Regions from separate parts of the Homo sapiens genome. Here region 2 is linked to region 1. The links come from fine-mapping of genetic effects on gene expression. A gene starts in region 1. The other region holds a variant in brackets. All regions are shown on one strand. Distances are from middle to middle.

Region 1 (8,325 bases):
GCTTCAGTGCAGTGCCTCCCGTGCCAGGTACCTTCATATAGGTCTCGTTGAACTTACAGTCCAGACCTGCAGAAAGTGTATGACCAAGTGCTGAGTTAGGCAGTGCAGGTTATGGATGCTGTAGAATTCCAAGGAACTCCCAGACAAAGGTATGAATGTGCTTGCTTCTGAAAAACACTGACAGTACTTCCCACCTTGCTGAGATCAAAAGTGAAGTCTCAGAGCTGGGAGGAGTATGCAGGGGACCATGGGAAGGGATTGGGTTTTCTTTTTTTGAGGCAGTGTCTCACTGTCACCCAGGCTGGAGTGCAGCGGTGCAATCACAGGTTACTGCAGCCCTGACCTCCTGGGCTCAAGCAATCCTCCTGCCTCAGCCTCCTTAGTAGCTGGGATGACAGGCATACACTACCACGCCCAGCTTTTTTTTTTTTTTTGAAGACAGAGTCTCACTCTGTTGCCCAGGCTGGAGCACGGTGGTGCAATCTCAGTTCACCGCAACCTCCACCTCCCAGGTTCAAGCGATTCTTGTGTCTCGGCCTCCAGAGTAGCACACCACCACACCTGGCTAATTTTTTTAAATTATTTATTTATTTAAGTAGAGATGGGGTTTCACCATGTTGGCCAGGCTCATCTTGAACTCCCGGTCTCAAGTGATCCACTCGCCTCGGCTTCCCAAAGTGCTGTGAGCTACCATGCCCGGCCTTTTTTTTTTTTTTTTTTTTTTTTTTAAGAGGCAGTGTTTCATTCCGTTACCCCAGCTGGTGTCCAGCACCTGGGTTCAAGGGATCTGCATCACCCTGCCACCAGCCTCCTGAGTTGCAAGCTGCCACACCCGGCTCAGGAGTCAGTTTTTCAGCTAGCTTCTCCAAGACAAATATCATTATCCCTTTCATAGTTAAAAGAATGTCACTAGTCAGCTGCAAGTGCTTTTCTGTTTATTGGGCACAGCCATAGAACAGCTTTAATTATGCCCAGTGTAGGGATTCAGAAAGTGAATCAGAGAAGCAAATTGGTCCAGGGACTGTTTGGTAGTCCAGTGCTAATAGAACTTTCTGTAGTGATAGAAATATTCCGTATTTGAGCTGTGGCTCTAAACAATAGTCACTAGCCATGTGTGGCAACTGGGCACTTCAAGTGTGGCTAGTGTGACAGAGGAACTGAATATATATATATATATATATACATATATATATATATATATATTTTAGACAGAGTCTTGCTCTGTTGCCCAGGCTAGAGTGCAGTGGTGTGACCTCAGCTCATTGCAGCCACAACCTACTGGGCTCAAGCAATCCTCCTACCCCAGCTTCCCAAGTAACTGGGACCACAGGCATGTACCACCATGCCTGGCTGATTTTTTTATTGTTTGTAGAGTCAGGGTTTCACCACGTTGCACAGGCTGGTCTCAAACTCCTGGGCTCACATGATCCACCCGCCTCAGCCTCCCAAAGTGCTGGGATTGCAGGTGTGAGCCACCTCAGCTGGCCCTAAGTTTTAATTTTCATAGCCACGTGTGGCTAGTGGTTACCCTATCGGATAGGGCAAGTTGGAAGAAGATAGGAGCTTGCTCTTGCCCAGACCTCCTGGCTCCCAGCACAGTGTGCTCTGATGCTCTCTCTGCCTTTTGTCACACCAGTGCAGTGGACATCATGGGGAAGACAGGGACCTGGCCCAGAGACCTTACCTGGTGTGGAACTCATCTCCTTTCCCTCCCCCTGGCAGGGCTGAAAAACTGGGTGGTAGCTGAAGACGTGGTGTTTAAACCTGTGGCTGCCCCCTGGAACCCGGAGCACTGGCTACAGCGCCCACAGCTGACTCGGCAGGTCCTGGGAAAGGAGGACCTGACAGCTTTTTCCTTGGGAAGCCCCCTACCCCGCTACCTCTACCTGGCTAGCAACCAGACTAATGCGTGGGGTCACCAGCGCGGGTACCGAATCCAGATCCACAGCCCCCTTGGCATACACATACCCCTGGAGAGTGACATGGAGAGGGCCCTCAGCTGGGGGAGGTGAGGAGGGCCCTGGCCTGGGTGGAAGGAAAGGACAGCCCCTCCCCTGCCCCAGTCCTTGGAGACAAACTCCCTTCCCACGGCTACCATTCATCCCTGTACCTCCCCTCAAACCCAAGTTAGATACACGGTGGGAAATGGTCTCACACAGAATCGGATCTAAGGGACTCCTGGGCCAGTAAAGGCACTTGACATTTCCCAAAACCACCTTCTTATGATTCCTGGCCAGATACCAGCTTGTGGTGACCCAGAGAAAGGAGGAGGAGTCACAGAGCAGTAGCATCTATCACCAGAATGACATCTGGACACCCACAGTTACCTTTGCTGACTTCATCAACAATGAAACCCTCTTAGGAGAGGTTGGTTGCCCTAGGGACATAGGAAAGGGACACCTGTGGGCATGGCATCTTGGCTGCCCAGCCTCTGGCCAAAGGTTAGAGGGAATGGCTGATTTCCAGTTCGCAGATTCAGAGGCCATGGAGTTTTCTGATGACCAACACAGGTCATCCCTCCTGGGGTGAGATTAGCTCTGGGACACTGGCTCCCCCCTCTCCCCGCACAGCTGCTTACATGGATTGCTCCACGTGTTGTATGGGCATGAGGCTGGGGAGAGTGGAAGCCAGGCTGAGACTGGAGGCTGGGATTGTGACTGAAGGGTGGTTCTTTGGGTCACGCTTCCATAGTCCTCCAGCTCCTCCTTCTTCTTGCAGGATCTGGTGGCTTGGGTCACAGCCAGCTTCCTGCACATTCCCCATGCCGAGGACATCCCAAACACAGTGACTCTGGGGAACAGAGTTGGCTTCTTGCTCCGACCCTATAACTTCTTTGATGAGGACCCCTCCATCTTCTCCCCTGGCAGTGTCTACTTTGAGAAGGGCCAGGATGCTGGGCTCTGCAGCATCAATCCTGTGGCCTGCCTCCCCGACCTGGCAGCCTGTGTCCCGGACTTACCCCCTTTCTCTTACCACGGCTTCTAGTCCTGAGGGTGTGGCGGGCGGCGTGGTTAGGCACATGTACTTTTCCCTGTTTCTACTTTCTATTCTCCGTGTTTTTATCACACCTGCTCCCCAGATTCCCACCCCCTCAATGTTCCTCTCACACGAAACCCCCATCAGTCCCTTTGGTTAATTCTTACTTCCTGTTCATCTCTAAAGTGTTAAATTATAAAAATGATTTTTAAATATTCAAAGAAAAATATCACAAATCCTACTACTCAGAAATAGGTGGTCACATTACATCAGACATCTCTTTATGCATGTGCATTCAAAAGGAAGAGTAGATAGAATTTTGTAAAACAGATGTTGTATGTAATTTATAATAAAAAGTATTAGAGGAATTTTACTTGAATTTATTGTTTGACCTGTTAAGTATCTAGAGTCCTCTGGAGAATACTAAGGAGTCTGGCCAGGGAAATTAGCGCTGGGGGCCAGAGGGCAAGGGGGATAGACCTGGCCAAGGAATGTCATTTGGAAAGCTAAAGGGGCAGGGGGTGGGGGTCTTTGGAAGGAAAACGATAGTTTGAAGTTACAGGAAAATATCTGGCCCTGACTAAGTGGGGGACTGGGGAAGAAGCTGGGCTGAGGTCAGGAGAGGCTGCTCTGCACAGATCCTGCTCCTTCCCAGTGCTGCATTATCTTGAAATTTTCCTTCCCCTTCCCCCTAGCCCCAACTCTCCCCAACTCCAACCCTGACCCAGAAAGTAGAGTGATTTGGAGGCTGGAAGACAAAACCATGTAAGGTCTGTGGAAATCACAGCTGTTCAGACCCGCCTCCAACCCCGGCCACCCCGCCCCCTTGCCCTAGCCTTCCTGTGTCCTTCCCACCCTTAGTCCCAGGCATCTGACTACCGGGAACCTCAGCCAGAGTCCGGGAGCCCCCCACCCCGTCCAGGAGCCAACAGAGCCCCCGTCTTGCTGGCGTGAGAATACATTGCTCTCCTTTGGTTGAATCAGCTGTCCCTCTTCGTGGGAAAATGAACCAGAAGACAATCCTCGTGCTCCTCATTCTGGCCGTCATCACCATCTTTGCCTTGGTTTGTGTCCTGCTGGTGGGCAGGGGTGGAGATGGGGGTGAACCCAGCCAGCTTCCCCATTGCCCCTCTGTATCTCCCAGTGCCCAGCCTTGGACACACCCTGGCCAGAGCCAGCTGTTTGCAGACCTGAGCCGAGAGGAGCTGACGGCTGTGATGCGCTTTCTGACCCAGCGGCTGGGGCCAGGGCTGGTGGATGCAGCCCAGGCCCGGCCCTCGGACAACTGTGTCTTCTCAGTGGAGTTGCAGCTGCCTCCCAAGGCTGCAGCCCTGGCTCACTTGGACAGGGGGAGCCCCCCACCTGCCCGGGAGGCACTGGCCATCGTCTTCTTTGGCAGGCAACCCCAGCCCAACGTGAGTGAGCTGGTGGTGGGGCCACTGCCTCACCCCTCCTACATGCGGGACGTGACTGTGGAGCGTCATGGAGGCCCCCTGCCCTATCACCGACGCCCCGTGCTGTTCCAAGAGTACCTGGACATAGACCAGATGATCTTCAACAGAGAGCTGCCCCAGGCTTCTGGGCTTCTCCACCACTGTTGCTTCTACAAGCACCGGGGACGGAACCTGGTGACAATGACCACGGCTCCCCGTGGTCTGCAATCAGGGGACCGGGCCACCTGGTTTGGCCTCTACTACAACATCTCGGGCGCTGGGTTCTTCCTGCACCACGTGGGCTTGGAGCTGCTAGTGAACCACAAGGCCCTTGACCCTGCCCGCTGGACTATCCAGAAGGTGTTCTATCAAGGCCGCTACTACGACAGCCTGGCCCAGCTGGAGGCCCAGTTTGAGGCCGGCCTGGTGAATGTGGTGCTGATCCCAGACAATGGCACAGGTGGGTCCTGGTCCCTGAAGTCCCCTGTGCCCCCGGGTCCAGCTCCCCCTCTACAGTTCTATCCCCAAGGCCCCCGCTTCAGTGTCCAGGGAAGTCGAGTGGCCTCCTCACTGTGGACTTTCTCCTTTGGCCTCGGAGCATTCAGTGGCCCAAGGATCTTTGACGTTCGCTTCCAAGGAGAAAGACTAGTTTATGAGATAAGCCTCCAAGAGGCCTTGGCCATCTATGGTGGAAATTCCCCAGCAGCAATGACGACCCGCTATGTGGATGGAGGCTTTGGCATGGGCAAGTACACCACGCCCCTGACCCGTGGGGTGGACTGCCCCTACTTGGCCACCTACGTGGACTGGCACTTCCTTTTGGAGTCCCAGGCCCCCAAGACAATACGTGATGCCTTTTGTGTGTTTGAACAGAACCAGGGCCTCCCCCTGCGGCGACACCACTCAGATCTCTACTCGCACTACTTTGGGGGTCTTGCGGAAACGGTGCTGGTCGTCAGATCTATGTCCACCTTGCTCAACTATGACTATGTGTGGGATACGGTCTTCCACCCCAGTGGGGCCATAGAAATACGATTCTATGCCACGGGCTACATCAGCTCGGCATTCCTCTTTGGTGCTACTGGGAAGTACGGGAACCAAGTGTCAGAGCACACCCTGGGCACGGTCCACACCCACAGCGCCCACTTCAAGGTGGATCTGGATGTAGCAGGTAAGACATTTTGGTGGGGAGAAGGCTTCTGGAAGAAGGGCTGAAAAGTTGTTTCCATTAGCTTTGGGTTTTATGTAGATTATCCCAGAAAGGAAGACGTGGATTTTTGTACTTCCCCTTTTGCTGGATGGGAGAGAGTTGGCTGCTGAGTTTTATTTGGATCTTAGCTCACTGGCTGGGTGCAAAGCTGCAGCCTTCCTCTACGTGACCTCATCCAAAGATCTTGGGAAATGGCCGAGCTCAGGGAGGAGGCAGGATTTGGGCTAACAGTGTCCCCATTGCCCTCTTCTCTCCCTTGTACTTATATGGGCTCTGCTGCTGGGAGCAGCCTTCTGTTTGTCAGCTCAGTTCTGTGTCTGGCCTGTGGTGGTGGTGTTTTGGAGGATCTCTTTGCATTCTACCACGTCCCTGGCATGTGCAGGTCAGTCATTCCAGGTTGTACATTTCCTTTGGAGATGGACCCTCCTCCCTGATTTTCCTTCTTTCTCTGGGCACAATTCACCTAAGTGTGAGGGGTCACATGGATCCCGTGGAGCATTCTGGATAGATCCTGGAGTCTGGTCACAGAGAGAGCCAAGGCTACATGATGGCTTGGAGTCTTCATCTTTGTCTTTTCACTGTCTTTCCCCACATTGAGTCAGTCACCAGGTGTTTTTTTTTGGTTTTGTTTTATTTTGTTTTGTTTCTGTTTTGCACCTGCAGTATCTCGGCAGGTCAGACTGTCATGCCGTGCAGGTGCCAGCCCTCTCTCTGCTGTTTTTGCTCTTGTTGCTCTCAGAGCCAAGAGCCACTCTGCACCCAGAGGGCCTCCCATCCACACCAGCCTGCCCTTTACTCAGCTCTCACTTTCGTCATCACCTGTGGGATCCTGTCTGCAGAACCCCCTCAAAACTCTTTCCTTCACGGTGCAGCTCCACCCTGCCTTGCTGTGCTCTGCACAGCTACACCCAAATTCTCCATGTCCCTGGACACGCACTTCACATGTTACAGTCAGGCATCCTCCTGTTTGCTTATGCTTTGTCTCTGCTTAGAATGTCCTTCCATATCATCTTTTCTGGTAATGTCCTTTAAGGCCAGGCTGAAAAGTTGCCCGGAAGGGCCCCCTTTTCCTGCCTGCAACTGTATTCCTGTGATCCGGAAGTTGCCTAGGCCATGCTCCTCTCACAGGACAGGCCAGTCAGTGGTTTGTCTGTCTGCGTGGAAAGCAAGAGGGTAAGGATGATCATTCATCTCTATCCCCAGGGACGAGTACAGTCCTCTCTGCTAATGAATGTTGAAAGAATGAATGAGTGAAATGGAATGAACTCCCTGATGAAGTATTTTAATTTACAGGTCAACAGCTTTGGCTAAAGGATTGGAGGTATCCTGGGGAGAGGGAAGAGAAGGAGGGGCACACTCAGTTCTGGGCTGCTCTTTGGCCCCCACTCTGAAGCCAGATGGGGGCAGAGTCCAGAGGGGCCAGGGCAGTTGCCTGACAGGCCCTCCCCTATCCCACCCTGAGCAGGACTGGAGAACTGGGTCTGGGCCGAGGATATGGTCTTTGTCCCCATGGCTGTGCCCTGGAGCCCTGAGCACCAGCTGCAGAGGCTGCAGGTGACCCGGAAGCTGCTGGAGATGGAGGAGCAGGCCGCCTTCCTCGTGGGAAGCGCCACCCCTCGCTACCTGTACCTGGCCAGCAACCACAGCAACAAGTGGGGTCACCCCCGGGGCTACCGCATCCAGATGCTCAGCTTTGCTGGAGAGCCGCTGCCCCAAAACAGCTCCATGGCGAGAGGCTTCAGCTGGGAGAGGTGAGTGGCGGGCAGTCAGAGAGGAGGGGGGCAGTGAGAGTGGGAAAGGAGTGTTGGCGGACACTCAGCTCACACTGTAGGTGAGGGGAGAGCTCTCTCAGGAAGGCTTTTCTTTTCCTTTTTTTTTTTTTTTTTTGAGATGGAGTTTTGCTCTGTTGCCCAGGCCGGAGTGCAGTGGAGCAATCTCACTGCATCCTCCGCCTCCCAGTTTCAAGCGATTCTCCTGCCTCAGCCTCCCCAGTAGCTGGGATTACAGGTGCACGCCACCACACATGGCTAATTTTTGTATTTTTAGTAGAGATAGGGTTTCACCATGTTGGCCAGGCTGGTCTCGAACTCCTGACCTCATGATCCACCCTCCTTGGTCTCCCAAAGTGCTGTGATTACAGGCATGAGCCACAATGCCTGGCCAAAGGTTTTTCTAGTTATCCAAAGAAACCATGATGGGCACATTTTCCCCTTGGAGGCTAAAGCCCAGGAGTGAGAACTCTCTTCTGTTTTGGATGGGAGAGGGGTTGTACTGTTAAATGGCTGGGGATAAACAGGAGGACTTGACCCCCCTTAGGGTGACGTCGGGGATTCTGTAGCGCCGAGTCAGTTGTGTGACTGCAATTGGGGAAGCTGAGCTCTGAGCACTCAGTTCCCTTTCATCATAATCAGGCAGCAGGATGGGGTCAATGGCCATGGAGGCCTGACCAGTGCCTCCCTAGGTACCAGCTGGCTGTGACCCAGCGGAAGGAGGAGGAGCCCAGTAGCAGCAGCGTTTTCAATCAGAATGACCCTTGGGCCCCCACTGTGGATTTCAGTGACTTCATCAACAATGAGACCATTGCTGGAAAGGTCAGCTGGCCGGGGTAGAGGGTACAGGATGAGCCTTGCTTTCTCTTGGGAGGGTCCCTGAAAACCACCTGCACTTCTCAGGGGTGGTGCTGATTCCTGCCTTCTGCACTTCAGT
Region 2 (8,325 bases), 700 kb before region 1:
AAACACACAAAGATCAAACAGGACCCGATCTGTGCCCCTAAAGGGCTCACCCACCAGAGAATGAGGCAAATAAGGAACAATGAGATAGCAGTTGAGAAGACAGCCCATGTAGGAGACAAGCCCTCAGCCCATTTGGGGCAAGGGAAGGCTTCACAGAGGAAGTGGCATTCAAACTGAGCTTTGAGAGAAAAGTAGGGAGATACAGTTTCCAGGCACGTGAGGTGCAGAAGAGCCTTCTAGGCAAAGTGAACAGTAGGCATTTAGCCCAGAGATGGGTCAAGGAGAGGCTGTATTGAATAGCGATAAGAGCACACCCCATCTCTGCCATTACTACATAGTCCCCCACTCTAACATGGGGATTAAACACAGAACCTACCTCCTGGGGTTGTCGGAGGATTAAAGGAGTCAACACATAGGGCTCACAAGAGTGCCTGGCACATGGCAAAAATAGAAGTTTAGCTTTTATTTGTATTACTGTTCTTATACATAGAGGATGGGGCTATTTAATTGGAAAAGTAATCTCTTACAATACCAAGCTATTAATGCAGAGGATGCCAAAAATATTCCGATTCTCCTCTGCCAAGGTTTTTGCAAGCATGATTACCTGGATTTTGGCACATCCTAGTTTATAAATTCTACCTAAAGCAGTGCTTCTCAAACAGCCCCAACATATGTACCCTTCACTCAAGTCAGGGGAGAGGAAACTCCCAGAAATCTGGGAGTTGAACCCAAAGCAGCTGGCTACAAGCAAAATACTGTCTTTGGCCAGGTGCAGCGGCTCATGCCTGTAATCCCAGCACTTCGGGAGGCCAAAGTAGGAGGATCACTTGAGCCCAGGAGTTCTGAGACCAGCCTGGGCAACATGGCAAAACCCTGTCTCTACTAAAAATACAAAAACTAGCCGGGCATGGTGGTACATGCCTACAGTCCCAGCTACTCAGGAGGCTGAGGTGGGAGGATCACTTGGGTCCACAAGATCAAGGCGGAAGTAAGCCATGATCGTCCCACTGCACTCCAGCCTGGGTGAGAGAGGCCCTGTCTCAAAAATAAATAAATTAATTAATTAATTAAAGTTTCCTGTGTTAGCTTCAATTCATGCAAACTTTGCATTCTAATCTATAATAGTTACAGGACTGTTTTAATATTAAAACGCTTACAACTAAGTAAAACTGAAGTGGCACAGCGTTCTCTTCTGTAAAATGGGAATACAACCCACATCAATTCTGTTCAATGTCTACAAAATGAGACAATTTGTGAAACCATCAAGCAATGTACAAGGCATCCCAGCAGACATTTTGTTTTTGTTTTAGACATGGGGTCTCATTATGTTGCCCAGGCTGGTTTTTTTTTTTTTTTTTTTTGAGATAGACTCTTGGTCTGTTGCCCAGGCTGGAGTGCAGTGGTGCAATCTCGGCTCACTGCAACGTCCACCTCCCAGGTTGAACTGCCTCCCAGGTTCCTGCCTAAGCCTCCCAAGTAGCTGGGATTACAGGCATGTGCCACCACGCCTGACTAATTTTGGTATTTTTAGTAGAGATGGGGTTTCACCATGTTGGCCAGGCTGGTCTCGAACTCCTGACTTCAGGTGATCTCCCAGCCTCAGCCTTCCAAAGTGCTAGGATTATAGGCGTGATCCACCACACCTGGCCCCCAAGCTGGTCTTGAACTCCTGGGATCAAGCGATCCTCCCAAAGTGCTAGGATTATAGGCATGAGCCACTGTGCCCAGCCCCAGCATACATTTGGTACACATGTTGAATCAGAATCAGTGTTGAGGCTGGGCACAATTACCTGAGGTCAGGAGATCGAGACCAGCCTGGCCAACATAGAGGAACCCTGTCTCTACTAAAAGTACAAAAATTAGCTGGGCATGGTGGCACACGCCTATAATCCCAGCTACTCAGGAGGCTGAGGCAGGAGAATAGCTTGAGCCCGGGAGACAGAGGTTGCAGTGAGCCAAGATCACGCCATTGCACTCCAGCCTGGGAGACAAGAGTGAAACTCCATCTCAAAAAAAAAAAAAAAAAAAAAAAAAAAAATCAGCCAGACACGGTGGCTCATGCTTGTAATCCCAGCACTCTGGGAGGCCGATGAGGCGGGCAGATCACCTCACCTGAGGTCAGGAGTTTGAGACCAGCCTGGCCAACATGGTCAAACCCCATCTCTACAAAAATACCAAAAAAAAAAATTAGCCGGGCATGATGGCAGGTGCCTGTAATCCCAGCTACTCAGGAGGCTGAGGCAGGAGAATCGCTTGAACACAGGAGGCGGAGGTTGCAGTGAGCCTGGGCAACAGAATGAGAATGAGACTGCCTCAAAAAAAAAAAGAACCTTCAAACCCCTACCTACCCATCAGAGGCAACTGCTATTTTGTGGGCATCCAGTCTGCCAGCACTGGACTAGCTCCTTTCTTTGTTTCTAATTCTGCAAGGTATTTAGCATCCCCATTTTACCAGAAGAAACACAGGCTCAGTGAGGTCAAGTAACAAGCCCAGGGTCACACAACTGGTAAGTGGGGGAATCAGGATGAGAACTCAGGTCCAACTGCCTCTGAAGTTCTAGTGCCTTCCACCCGACCACACTGCCTGTTTACTGGGCAAGGGTTAGAAGTAGAAGGTCTGGCCAGGCGCAGTGGCTCACGCCTGTAATCCCAGCACTTTGGGAGGCCAGGGTGGGCGGATCACGAGGTCAGGAGATCGAGACCATCCTGGCTAACACGGCGGAACCCCATCTCTACTAAAAATACAAAACAATTAGCCGGACGTGGTGGTGGGCACCTGTAGTCCCAACTACTCTGGAGGCTGAGGTAGGAGAATGGCATGAACCCGGGAGGCGGAGCTTGCAGTGAGCCAAGATCGCACCACTGCACTCCAGCCTAGGCGACAGAGCGAGACTCCGACTCAAAAAAAAAAAAAGAAGTAGAAGGTCTAAGAAGTACTTGCTTGGTGGGGCTGAATTTAAATGTATGATCTTGCTCTGTTTCCATGTAAATTCTAGTGACAGGAGCTCCTGGTGGCAAGCCACATTCTTCCCACTTGCAAGCAGCAGGCAGCACCACAGGAGAAACAGAGGACTAACCAGAGGCCCGCTCTGTTGCTTCCCCCTTAACCCTGCCCAGTGGGACCCCTGAGTTTACTCACTTTAACTTTCATTTTCTAGCCATTAGGACTTTCAGGTTCCCAGAAAAATTAATGACATGTAGATGTCAGCAAACTCTCAGGCCCTGAAGAGTACTGACTTGGGACTCCTAACTGTTTTGGTCCTCAGAGGCAGAGGTGAAAGGGGTCAAGAGAGAAGACAGGAGGTCGGGTAGACGCTGGGGAAGACAAAAAAACAGAGGAGCGCTAGTGATGAGGAGGGCTAAAGAGTTAAGAGTCTGCCCTTGTGCCGTGGCGCACTCAGTCTGCATGTTCATTCATTTAACGAACAAACCAGGCCGAAGAAGGGCCCACTGTTAGATCAGGTCACATCTGACCCCAAATCCAAGCCCCAGCTCTACTACTTTCTAAATGTATGATCGATCTTAGGCAAACTACTTAAGTTCCTTCTGCATCCCTTCTAAAGCAGGGACACTTGCCTTATCTTACTCAAAAAAAAAAAAGTAATAATAAAAATTAAAAACAAAGTGGGGAAACAAGCCCCACTATTTCCCAAGGCACCTATGAGGAATATGTATGAAAATAATTTTGCAACCTTAAAATGATTTTTAAAAATTAGTGTTACTGTCCCTCTACAGTTTAACAGCCCTCTAATTGTGAGAGGCAAGAGGGCAGGGGAGGAACAGCATCAGAAAGGAGGGGTTCTGTCGCACACGGAGCCATCGCTCTCTCTGCCAGGCAGAGTCAGACCTCTGCTTGGACTCTATAATTTCTAGGTGCCAGAAGTGGCTGCATAACGACCCAAAGCACTGGGGCCTGCCTCGTCTCTCTAAATGGCAGAGCTTCCCCTTCAAAGTC[G/A]TTTCAGGTTGGGTGCAGTGGCTCATGCCTGTAATCCTAGCACTTTGGGAGGCTGAGGTGGGTGGATCATCTGAGGTCAGGAGTTCGAGACCAGCCTGGCCAACATGGTGAGACCCCATCTCTACTAAAAATACAAAAATTAGCTGGGCGTGGTGGTGCATGGCTGTAATCTCAGCTACTCAGGAGGCTGAGGCAGGAGAATCCCTTGATCTCGGGAGGCAGAGGCTGCAGTGAGCCAAGATTGTGCCACTGCACTCCAGCCTGGGTGACAAAACAAGGCTCTGTCTCCAAAAAAAAAAAAAAAGTCGTTTCAGAGTCAGAGCTGGGAGAGCATGTCCAGACAAAGAAAAGAAGGTCTCCTCAGAAGGCTGGTCGGCCTCATCCCAGCACTCCTGAAGAGTGACAAACTGCGGTCTACTCCTGAAGACCTAAGTCTGGTCAGAGACCAATGGCCAGTGAGCAGTCAGGCCTCTCTGGCCCTGCCCCTCAGATGCCCAGGCTGACCAGATCAGAGAAACTAGGTTGGTTGAAGAAGTCTCCAATGAACCCCAAAGGAACCCACACAGATACAGAGCCTGTGATCCAGCTGTTGACCCTAATAAGGAAGGCTTCTTCTGTTGTCCGATAAAAAGTGAAATAAGTAGGCCGGGCACGGTGGTTCACACCTGTAATCTCAGCACTTTGGGAGGCTGAGGCGGGTGGATCACCTGAAGTCAGGAGTTCGAGACCAGCCCGGCCAACATGGCGAAACCCCATCTCTACTAAAAATACAAAAATTAGCCGGGTGTGGTGGCAGGCGCCTGTTAATCCCAGCTACTCAGGAGGCTGAGGCAAGAGAACTGCTTGAACCCAGGAGGCAGAGGTTGCAGTGAGCCAAGATCACGCCACTGCACTCCAGCCTGGGCGACAGAGCAAGACTCCATCTCAAAAACAAACAAACAAAAAAGTGAAGAAAGTACATCCTAGCTCTACTCAAAAGACTGTAGGAATCAGATACTAGCCACTGTCCAGAAGCCCTCAAACACACCTCAAGGCCAAAAAACACAGCACTTTTAAGTGGCAAGCGAGGGTGGTAAAGGTAGCCCAGAACACTGAAGAGCTACAGAAGTTCCCACAAACTGCACGGCTTTCCGTCCCTTCCTCCACTGTAGATAGCAAGGGTCAGTCATGGCCTCAGAGCCAGGCTACTCCTCGTTAAGGTACAGTCTCCGGCCTGTACTTTGGCCACATAACAAAGCTTGGTCTGAGACAGCAGCTATTTCACACACCTAAGCCCCAAGCAACAGACAAGGATCAGTCAATATGGTTGAGGGAACCTGCACTTTCTGGCATGTATCGGAATTCCTCAGGCTACAATTAAAAATCCAGAACTGCCATTGTGATCTTGACTTAGTCCTCAGTAATAAGTCCAAGCCCTGAAGGGATTGCAGACAGACCCTGGCGTGGTGTGGACCTGTTGCTCAGGGAGGTGTATGTGTGTGTGTTTGGGAGTGGGAAAGAGATGGCCCTTCAATTCCAGACTCCTCATTTTGGGTCTTATTCTCCTCCCTATAGACACACGGACAGCAGTCCCAAGAAAAGCAGTCCCTTTGAGGCGGCTGGGAAACCACTCACGTGCTCTGGGAGGACAGAGCTGAGCCTGGAGCAAGGGGGGAGGGGAAAGAAGATAATGAATGGGCACATCCACCCTGATCTGTGATCTGTAGCTAGGATTGAGCAAACCTCAGCTAAATTCTTCAGAGGCAGAAAGAGAGAGACACTCAAAGAACAACATAACTAGAGGACAGGGCTGGGAGACAGAAGGGGCAAAACAGGAAAACAGCTCATTTCTAGTAAGTGACTTTAAACTCAGCTGAGGTCCTGGTTGGTTCTCTGGCTTGAGGAAAGAGAGGAAGTAAGGAGTTGCGGGAGCGCACACACACTTCTGTGCGTGTGGAACGGTCTCACCCAGACGACCCCCCTCCCCCAAAGGAAATCGAGATATTCCTCTAGGGCTAGAGGGGACAACTGGTTTTGTGGGACAGGAGGAAGGAAAACGGCGACAGACAGCACTCCCTGTCACTTCTAAAAGAGAAGAGGGACAGGTTCCTTCACACCTAGCAAAGATCCTCCGATTCTGGAAGCAGGGGGAGCGGAACTTAGGGTACCTCTCTCCCACAACTAGAATGGACAGGCCAGAGGACAGTCATAGCGGTTTCCTTAAGGCTCACCAAAGGCAGGTAAGCTAAGGAAAGAAGCTCCCCACCTCCTATGGCCCGACGCCTGGGGAGCCCCTCAAGAGGGGGCTACGGGTCGGGGGAGGGGTCAGTATCCCCCTAAACTGGGGCTGGGCGGGAGGAAGGGCTGCCCTGGAGATGCTTCAACGCAGGCGAGACACCAGGTCCTGGGACAAGCATACTCACGGCGGCTCCGGGGCGGCGGCGTTACTTGGGGCCGGGGCTCGGACGGGATCCGCTTCTCTCCCCGCCGGCGGTGTCCCAGGCTCCGGCCTCCACTTCCGCCTTTCAGCCGCTCCGGATCCGGATCTCCACCTCCGCCCCGCCCCTCAATACTCCCAGGTGATTGACAGTGCGGAGACCAATGGGAGGCACTCTTGGCCGACCTACCCAGCGGCGCCGGTAGGAACGCGGGAGTGGCGGTAGGGAGCGCGCGAGGGATCGCGGGACTTGTAGTTCGCAGCGCTGGGAGGAGTCAGTGGCTGCCTGGGACTTGGGCTTAGGGTGGAGCCGGCTGACTGCGAGGCGGAGCCCGGCCGGAACTTTTTTTTTTTTTTTGAGACGGAGTCTTACTCTGTCGCCCAGGCTGGAGTGCAGTGGTGCGATCTCACTGCAACCTCTGCCTCCCGGGTTCAAGCGATTCTCCTGCCTCAGCCTCCCGAGGAGCTGGATTATAGGCACGCACCACCACGCCCGACTAATTTTTGTATTTTTTAGTAGAGACGGGGGTTTCGCCATGTTGGCCAGGCTGGTCTCGAACTCCTGACCTCAGGTGATCCGCCCTCTTCGGCCTCTCAAAGTGCTGAGATTACAGGCCTGAGCCACCGCGCCCAGCCTACGGCCGGGAACTTTTTAAGGCTAACCCTGCCATCCGCGTCACCGCCGGTTCCGGACGCCCCGAGGGAAGGCGGGTGGTGGAGCGTTGGAAGAAGGCAGAGGATTGTGTGTGCAGAATTGGGAAAGAAAAAACGTGGTGCGAATGAATATGCACGCGAGGCCTCAGTCCTGTGAACTCGCTGATCTGGAGAAGCCCTTGTCTGCACTGTCCGCCCGATTGCCAGGGGCGTCTGTGATTGGGAAGGTGAGGAAAGCGCTGCAGGAAGAGTTCTCTGCAGGATGCTGGGTGAGATCAAAGGGAGAGCTTCTGCCACCACCTCCTACTTGGTGTGTGCGGGGGCCGGCACAAAGACCATCTCTGCCTCTGCCTTCCCCTGCTCCTAGCCAGGGTCAGCTCTTCTCTCTGACGCGGAATACAGAGCTGGACAACCTCTGCCTCGGCCCTCTCCATCCGTAAATAAAGACTAGAACCACCCCCACTCTGCACTCTCCCCCTCTATGGATCAGGAATATTTGTTTTTTCTGCTCCTCTCAATATGGACTGGGCCCGCTCCTGATTCCTCCCACCCTTACCTCTCAACACAAACCAGTACCTCCTCTTCTTTTGCATCTCATCCTCAAGGGACACTACTGAAAACCTGTGTGGAATCAAAGCTCACCGGAGACAGCTGTGGCCATTGTGCCTATAACGCCAACACCAGGCATATCCTGGAGCCTCAGCTGGAGAATTTACCTGTCTTGGACAACCTGCCACAAAACTGTGCCCACATCTAGTTCCATCTGGTCATCAGGGCGTCTCTCTTTCTTACACCCATAACACACAATCCCCACTTCCGCGCCAGTGTTCATGAGAAGTGAAAAGGAAGAGGGAAGAGAGGGCTTGTTGGGAGGACAGAGGGGATGGGGCAGAGTGGGATTCCTAGCAGGTTCTGGCTGGTGACAAGCTCTTCCCCCAGCCCCCTTGCCATACCCAGTTCTGGAACAGTTCCTTATACAGGAGGGATGGGTAGTCCCCTAGGCCCACCTTTCCAAGGCTGGAGGTGGGCCAAAGCCAGGACTCTGTCCTTCCCACATACTGTGTGCATACATGGCTGTGACTGGGGTGCAGGGGAGAGAAGGGGGTATAATAGGCCCATAGTGACTAATTAAGTTTCTTCCTCAACCCTGGGGCCCCTGGTGGTGTGAATGTGGTGCCAAGTAGATTGGCTGGTGCCTCTGCCCTTCCTAGAGATAGCAACTGGGCCCTGGGGTACAACGAAGGTGAGGGTGGGGAGTGATTGCTGTGTTGGCTCCTCCAAAGCCCTGGGGCTCTCAGAG

Which allele goes with the higher level. Alleles are on the strand shown, and positions count from the first base shown. SD is a standard deviation of normalised expression in the study named.
In carriers of allele A in region 2, the expression in tibial nerve of the gene that starts at base 3,836 in region 1 tends to be lower than with G alone (small effect, 0.18 SD a copy in GTEx).

What was found.
Region 2: its variant is fine-mapped to the expression of AOC3 in tibial nerve (GTEx, PIP 0.97).

What each region holds. Positions count from the first base shown.
Region 1 is chr17:42,847,364-42,855,688 of GRCh38, forward strand. AOC3 (amine oxidase copper containing 3) reads left to right here and starts at 3,836. Exons shown (of 4, transcript NM_003734.4): 1 at 3,836-5,580; 2 at 7,085-7,370; 3 at 8,081-8,210. The coding sequence starts at 3,981. It overlaps AOC2 (amine oxidase copper containing 2), which reads left to right. Exons shown (of 4, transcript NM_009590.4): 2 at 1,723-2,008; 3 at 2,238-2,367; 4 at 2,719-3,344. The coding sequence ends at 2,985.
Region 2 is chr17:42,148,536-42,156,860 of GRCh38, forward strand. RAB5C (RAB5C, member RAS oncogene family) reads right to left here and starts at 6,454. Exons shown (of 6, transcript NM_004583.4): 1 at 6,358-6,454. RAB5C-AS1 (RAB5C antisense RNA 1) reads left to right here and starts at 5,865. Exons shown (of 3, transcript NR_187282.1): 1 at 5,865-6,174; 2 at 6,464-6,573; 3 at 7,233-8,325. RefSeq lists enhancers at 5,906-6,526, 6,436-6,730, 6,613-6,722. The variant G/A (reference allele first, on the strand shown) is at 3,956.